Linked DNA regions of Homo sapiens. The protein of the gene in region 1 purifies or fractionates together with the protein of each later gene. This does not show direct contact. Each region holds a gene or a part of one and is shown on either strand. Other genes may lie near its edges.

Region 1 (3,500 bases):
AAAAAACAATATTATTTCTTCAGGGACAGTGCCTCAGAAGTATTCTCTTTTTACCCTCATTGTCAAGAGAATGGTTACTTAATTAAAGGTCAGTGGGTCCATCTTGAAAATATACTAGAAACAGATTTAATCATGTTCCCTCTCCAGACTAGATGTTAATACCTAAGCATAATTAACAACAGGATGCCAGTCAATGAGTGTACTTTTTACTTCATATCTGGGGAGTTTAGGTGCCTTCAATTTAATAGGGGCCTCGGTGCTAGTTAACAAATTGACAGTCTTGACCTGACTTCTAAAAGTGGCTGTAAAACGATGCCTAGTCAATTAAGATAAATGCCAAATTCCTCTGAGGAAACAGGCCTAAATCATTACTTTGAAATGGGCATTTCAGGTATGAGGCCAGGACTTCACAATAAGGATATAAATACTAGCTTGGGCATGAGGGAAGATGTACACCTAGCTATTGTACACACAAGATAACAGTGACTCACTTTATTCAGCATTATGCTTGGCTGGAGATTTTAAATTCCTTTTTAAATACAAGACTATTGTACCACAGGGTAAAGATTTTATTATCCTCAATAATGGGATTGAATATGCCAAGGCGATGGAAGCAGGAAATTAGATCTGCTGATCCCCATTGCCAAGACAGGAGTTATCGAAATCCACAACGGGTCACTTTGGTGAGCCTTCCAATGTTGCAGTGGCCTGGAAACACAGGGACTCGAAGTAGGGAAATGTCTGGCTCCAACTACGAGAGGTGGTAGAAGTCATGCTAGATCAGGTTCCAGGCAGCAGAATGGAGTTTAGAACATGAGCATTTACTGTACCTCTGCTATTTCAGTATTGCTGAAATACTAAACCAGGAGGCGAAGGCACTAAGCAGTTACGCAGCGGGGTTACTGATCTGGCTCTTTCCCACAGATGCCACTATCAAATAGCGCGGAGAAGCTAGCAGAGTCGCTGCTGACGTATTATATCACTGCTTGATAAGTCATGTATGAATAACCAAATTGGTCAAACAGATCCCTGAAGACAAATTGCAAGTCATAAACCTTCAACCTGAATCCTAATTTTTATCAATAACCAGGAGAGTTCATATTTATCTTATTTTTTCTGTATTTTCTTCACTGAAACTTCTTCACTCCTACTTATTTTGCTTCCCTCTTTCTAAGATTTATTGCTTCCTGCCCTGATATTTGGGGAGGGAAAACAGAGGGGGCTGTGATTTAGTTTCCTGTCAAGACTCAAATGAAATACACTGCCTCTTTATCACTAAAACCCTCTAGTTGGCAAATTTTAAATGAGGTGACAGGACATTAACTCAGAACCCTCTGCCCACTATCTTCCTCTGCACTGACCCCTAGCCAGACTTGTGGGGACGGAAAGCAAAATGATGAGTGTCCAGACATCTTCTCTTCTCTGGAGCGTTCCACCAACCAAACTGCACCAATAACTCTAAGCTATTAATGGGAAAAATCCCCAAGAGACATATGCACAAGTCTAATCAGCTTTTATTCTTTTTAGAGTCAGGGTCTTGCCCTGTTGCCCAGGCTGGAGTGCAGTGGCACAATCATGGCTCACTGCAGCCTCCAACTCCGAGGCTCAAGAGATCCACCTGCCTTAGCCTCCCAAGTAGCTGGGACTACAGATATGAGCCACTATTCCTGGCTAAGTTGTTTCATTTTCTTTCTTTTTTTTTCTTTCTTTTTTCTTTCTTTCTTTCTTTTTTTTTTTTTTTTTGAGAGATGAGGTCTCGCTACATTGCCCAGGCTGGTATCAAACTCCTGGTCTTAAGTCATCTTCCTTCCTCAGTCTCCCAAGTTGCTAGGATTACAGGCATGAGCCACCATGACTGGCTCTACTCAGCTTTCTATAGGCAAAAGTTCATCTAAGTGCTGTTTGTTTGGTGGAACACTCCAAAGAAGAGAACTTTCTTAAGCCAGAGGGAATATGAAGATCTTTGCTTCTCTAGCTGCCCTTTCGTTATCCATTAACATTTACGATTCATAAAAACATGGGTCTATCTCCGCATAGGAGAAATCATTGGCATTTACATACCCGTCACCACTAGGGTTGATTACGTTTCCTTTGACCCAGTAGTCCCTCATAATCAAGTTGATTTCCCTCTTAAGAGATTAGTTCTTTAAACTTCTGCTCTGGTCTTTTTCTGCCCTCTTAGGTCATGGATTATATGGGACTTTTGAAATGTTATCCTCCTGGAGGAAAACTAGAGAAGACCAACATGTTAAAGAGAGAACTGCAGCAGTCTATGCAGACTCCATGCTCTCCTTTTCTCTCACCACTGCCATGTACCTGGTCACCTTTGGCATAGGGGCCAGCCCTTTCACGAACATTGAGGCAGCCAGGATTTTCTGCTGCAATTCCTGTATTGCAATCTTCTTCAACTACCTCTATGTACTCTCGTTTTATGGTTCCAGCCTAGTGTTCACTGGCTACATAGAAAACAATTACCAGCATAGTATCTTCTGTAGAAAAGTCCCAAAGCCTGAGGCATTGCAGGAGAAGCCGGCATGGTACAGGTTTCTCCTGACGGCCAGATTCAGTGAGGACACAGCTGAAGGCGAGGAAGCGAACACTTACGAGAGTCACCTATTGGTATGTTTCCTCAAACGCTATTACTGTGACTGGATAACCAACACCTATGTCAAGCCTTTTGTAGTTCTCTTTTACCTTATTTATATTTCCTTTGCCTTAATGGGCTATCTGCAGGTCAGTGAAGGGTCAGACCTTAGTAACATTGTAGCAACCGCGACACAAACCATTGAGTACACTACTGCCCAGCAAAAGTACTTCAGCAACTACAGTCCTGTGATTGGGTTTTACATATATGAGTCTATAGAATACTGGAACACTAGTGTCCAAGAAGATGTTCTAGAATACACCAAGGGGTTTGTGCGGATATCCTGGTTTGAGAGCTATTTAAATTACCTTCGGAAACTCAATGTATCCACTGGCTTGCCTAAGAAAAATTTCACAGACATGTTGAGGAATTCCTTTCTGAAAGCCCCTCAATTTTCACATTTTCAAGAGGACATCATCTTCTCTAAAAAATACAATGATGAGGTCGATGTAGTGGCCTCCAGAATGTTTTTGGTGGCCAAGACCATGGAAACAAACAGAGAAGAACTCTATGATCTCTTGGAAACCCTGAGGAGACTTTCTGTCACCTCCAAGGTGAAGTTCATCGTCTTCAATCCGTCCTTTGTATACATGGATCGATATGCCTCCTCTCTGGGAGCCCCCCTGCACAACTCCTGCATCAGTGCTTTGTTCCTGCTCTTCTTCTCGGCATTCCTGGTGGCAGATTCACTGATTAACGTCTGGATCACTCTCACAGTTGTGTCCGTGGAGTTTGGAGTGATAGGTTTCATGACATTATGGAAAGTAGAACTGGACTGCATTTCTGTGCTATGCTTAATTTATGGAATTAATTACACAATTGACAATTGTGCTCCAATGTTATCCACATTTGTTCT
Region 2 (4,063 bases), on another chromosome or scaffold:
AGTATTTCTCACACTGTCTGGTACACTGCAAGTGCAGATATCTGGTTATCCTTATCTTAAGGAGAGGCCAACTCTAACACTTATCGTTCAGGTTTGTATCTCTTTTGATATTTGACAATATGCCCTGAGTAATGCCAAATGGCTGACTTGGAGGAAAAAGTCTTATTCTCACTAGCACCTCTTTGGATCCCAAAATATTTAACGCATGTGTCTTCATCTAGCAAGCCAACGTTTCACAATAAGCTAGGCTTACATACATATTTAAAACTTTAACAACCTGCCAGAAAAGCCTTCCCAATTTGCTTCCCACACCAGGGATGGACAGTGAATTAAAAACTATGTTGCTAGGCGCAGTGGGTCATGCCTGTAATCCCAGCACTTTGGGAGGCTGAGATGGTGGTGGGGACAGGGAGGGGATCACTTGAGGCCAGGAGTTCGAGACCAGACTGGCCAATATAGTGAGACGCTGTCTCCAAAAAAAAAAAAAACACCAGGCCGGGCGCAGTGGCTCATGCCTGTAATCCCAACACTTTGGGAGGCCGAGGCAGGTGGATCACCTGAGGTCAGGAGTTCAAAAACAGCCTGGCCAACATGGCGAAATGCCGTCTCTACTAAAAATACAAACAATTAGCTGGGCATATTGGCAGACACCTGTAATCCCAGCTACTTGGAAGGCTGAGGCAGGAGAATCGCTTGAACCCAGGAGGCAGAGGTTGCAGTGAGCCAATGTCACGCCATTGCACTCCAGCCTGGGTGACAGAGCAAGACTGCCTCAAAACAAAAACACACAAAAAAGCCCAAAAAAAACCTACGCCTTTTTTCTCTCACCTGCTTGTCAATCTACCCAAGTGGAAAAACTGGCTAGTAACTATTTGCAAGGTTTATGAGTATCCCGTAGGCCAACTCAGCTGAAAGACCATTGCTACCCCACTCATTCATCAAATGTTTGCTGATCACTCAGTCAAGTGTCACTACACTCCCAGGCTGCAACTCTGGCCCAGTCAGGACTCACTAGCTCCAGAGGCAGATGCACATGTGTGCAATTAAAAGAGCAAACACCTGGGCCAGGAAGGCAGGTGCTAAGACAGACCACAGGCAAATAGGCCACAGCACCCCTGTTTTTCCCATTTTATTAGCAGGCCAATTGCAGAGTTGATGGGCCTTCTCTTTAGTTTCTCTCCTGCTTCTTCTTCCCCATACCCTCCATCCTGGGCATCTCAGGCCTTGCAGACAGTTCTCTCCTCCCTCTCCTCTAACCCACACTACACCCTCTGCAGGATAAACTTCCTTCCTCGTCTGACTGCCTCCGCCCCGGATATCCTCTCCAAGGCAAAGAGTCATTCACTGGAAGACCGTGAGCAGGAGGAGGCTGGATTTAGGAAACAATGGGTAAAAGCTGCCCTCCAGCAGCTGAGGGCTGAGGACAGTCTCTCTCAAAAGAGGTAGCCAGAAACCAGCTGGAGAGTCAGGAGGCAGCAGTTGAGTGAGAGCAGTTGAGGGGAGGCTCAGTACCCATCCCCAAATCCCACCTGGGGAAAATCCCCAACATGCAGTCTGAGAGGACAGAGGGAGACAACCAGCACCTCCAGCCTCCTTAGCTTCTGGGAGGAAGGCAAGGGATGAGGGGAGGACAAGAAAGACAGTAACTGAGAGATCACTCCTGTGTTGGAGGTTCTGTGTAATATGCTCCCCAAGTAGCATCCCTGAAAGAAACTGAGACATTGAGAAGTTAAATAGTTTGTCCAAGGAAACCTGCGCGTTAAGTGGCAAATCCAAGAGTCAAAACTCTGCCTTCCAAACAATCCCACCAAGACTCCAAGCCACCTCTTCATGATATACTGATATACTTTCTACCAGGGCCCAGTGGATTTCCTCGGTGCCACTGTGATAGTATCCCAGCGTGGGGAGAGCCTGCCCATTCATTCACTCTCAGGGAGCAGCTGGTGGGTGGCTGGAGCCCAGGGCTCTAGGCAGAGCCTGAGCCCACTATTGCTCCAGCCGATTCCTGGGTCCTGGTTAGTTCACAACAGCACCAGAACCAGAAGCATGCAAAATATTCTCTAGTCTGTACCAGTAGATACAATACCTGCCTCAGAGGGCTGATTGTTAGCTAACACATTGTGATTTGCTTTAAATGTGCTCAATACCAGCCCCTTTATCACTTCCCAGCTTTCAAGGACTGAGGCCACAAAACACTGACTGCAGGCTCTTTCAGGTTTCAGTAACCATCACCACCTAGCACCAAGATTTGGAGTGGAGAGGTTTCCATGCAGTTATTTCACAAGAGGGAAAACTCACACCTGCGCTCAGGGACACAGATGTCCAAGGTCAGGCCCAGATGTTTGCCCCACCCCGCCCGCGGGCATTTTCTCCCCAGCAGGAGGGTGAGGGAGGGGGTGGCACGGATGCCCTCATCTCTCTGCCATACAATGAGCGTCAGTGGCGCGCAGAATCGCCGATTGTTCTGCCCGACTTGCAGGCGGTTGCGGGGAGCCGGGTCGCCCTGGGTCACGCACACGCGGAAGTCAACTGTGTCCAGGAAGCCCAGGAAGGCCCGGGATGGGGACGGACCTAGTGCCTCCAGAAAAGAGCAGCACTGCCCGGGCTAACTGCGGTCACTTCTCACAGTTCCCCGCCTGCGACAGCCCCGGGGCTGCGGCGGGGCTGGCAAGACCGGGAGGCGCTGAGTGCGTGCCCAGGCGCCCCTCCGCGGCGGGCAGAGCCGCGCGACTCAGGGCGCACTCACCTGGCAGCTGGCTCGGCGGCGCAGGGGCGGCAGGCGCTCTCGGAAGTGGCGGCTGGGTGCGCCCGGCCTGCGCGCCGTTTTGTTCCGCTCCGCGGAAGGCGTGTCCCGGGCCACGCCAACCAGTGGGCTTTGCACACTGCACCACTCCAGGGCTGATGTCATGGCGCGAAGCCCGGCGGTGCTGCCCTCCTAGGCCCCGGGAAGGCCGGCCGGCAGGGGCGGGGGCAGGAGTCGCCGACTCTGGGGGTGCTCCGAGCTCGTGCTGCGGTCCCACTGTGCGCCCTGTCGCCGCCACCGCGGAAAACGTCTTGCACGTGCGAGGGGCATTTCAGGAGTTTCCTGTCTGTCAGGTGAGAAGGCGGAGATATGACCTTAGAGGTCAGACCCATGATAAACTTGAGCCCCTAACGAAAGGGTGTCTCGAATTTACTTGTCCTGGTGGCAGAGGGTGAGGGACACATTTTGGGCGCCAGGGTAAGACAGACCCTTCCAGGGCAGGTCTGATTCTGCCCATCCACTCACTAGCTGGGCCCTGGGCCTAGACAGCCCTTCTGGGTTCAGGGTCATCTGTGAACGGCGTGTAATCTACAGGGATGTGAGGGGCTAAAAGGAGATCCGGTAGGACCCGCAGACCTTCAGCAGCACCCGGCATGTAATAGACACTCAATAAATGTAACTCCCCCCTCCAACAGCTCTTGCCCCTCAGTTTTTCCCAGTCTTCCCTGCTACCCTAAGGACAACACCTGGAAAAAGGTGTTCTCCCGCAAAAGCAGCAGTTCTGAAAAGTGGGTGCCTCCATAGAGGCTTTTCTCTGGGGCTCCAACCTTCAGTAGGACAGACACAGGCTCAGGCCACTCAAGCTGCCCCTGGGGCAGTTTCCAGGGGACATTCTGTCCACACCTCCTCACCCAGTCCCCAGCCCTTCCTGAGTGCCCCGTGCAGGCATTTCAGGGAGCAGAGAAGCTCACAGCCTCCAGCTGGTCACCCTACACCCCAGGTGGCCCATAGATGCAGCTGCTATGTCTTCCACCCTGGGCAGGTGTCAAGGGTTCAGGCCCCAACCGGCTTCACTTAAAGCCCTGGTTTGCTGAATCAACTTTTTGCCAGGAATAAAGTTAAGCATCTTATGATCTAGAAAATGAAGTATTTGGCCAGGCACTGTGGCTCACGCCTGTAATCCCAACACTTTGGGAGGCCGAGGCAGGCAGATTGCTTAAACCCAGGAGTTCGAGACCTGGTGAAACCCTGTTTCTACAAAAAAATTAAAAAAATTAGCCAGGCGTGGTGGTGTGTGCCTGTAATCCAAGCTACTCGAGA

What was found. Proteins that work in one complex are often made in the same cells at the same time.
Region 2: the proteins of PTCHD1 (region 1) and CSRP1 purify together in Homo sapiens (co-immunoprecipitation; one study listed by IntAct). This does not show direct contact.

Annotation. Positions count from the first base shown.
Region 1 is NC_000023.11:23,390,349-23,393,848, forward strand, and holds part of PTCHD1 (patched domain-containing protein 1), read left to right. Parts: intron 1-2,182; coding exon 2,183-3,500. UniProt on the Homo sapiens protein: Required for the development and function of the thalamic reticular nucleus (TRN), a part of the thalamus that is critical for thalamocortical transmission, generation of sleep rhythms, sensorimotor processing and attention. Can bind cholesterol in vitro.
Region 2 is NC_000001.11:201,504,324-201,508,386, forward strand, and holds the start of CSRP1 (cysteine and glycine-rich protein 1), read right to left. Parts: upstream 2,801-4,063; 5' UTR 2,747-2,800; intron 2,517-2,746; exon of another isoform or gene 2,301-2,516; intron 1-2,300. UniProt on the Homo sapiens protein: Could play a role in neuronal development.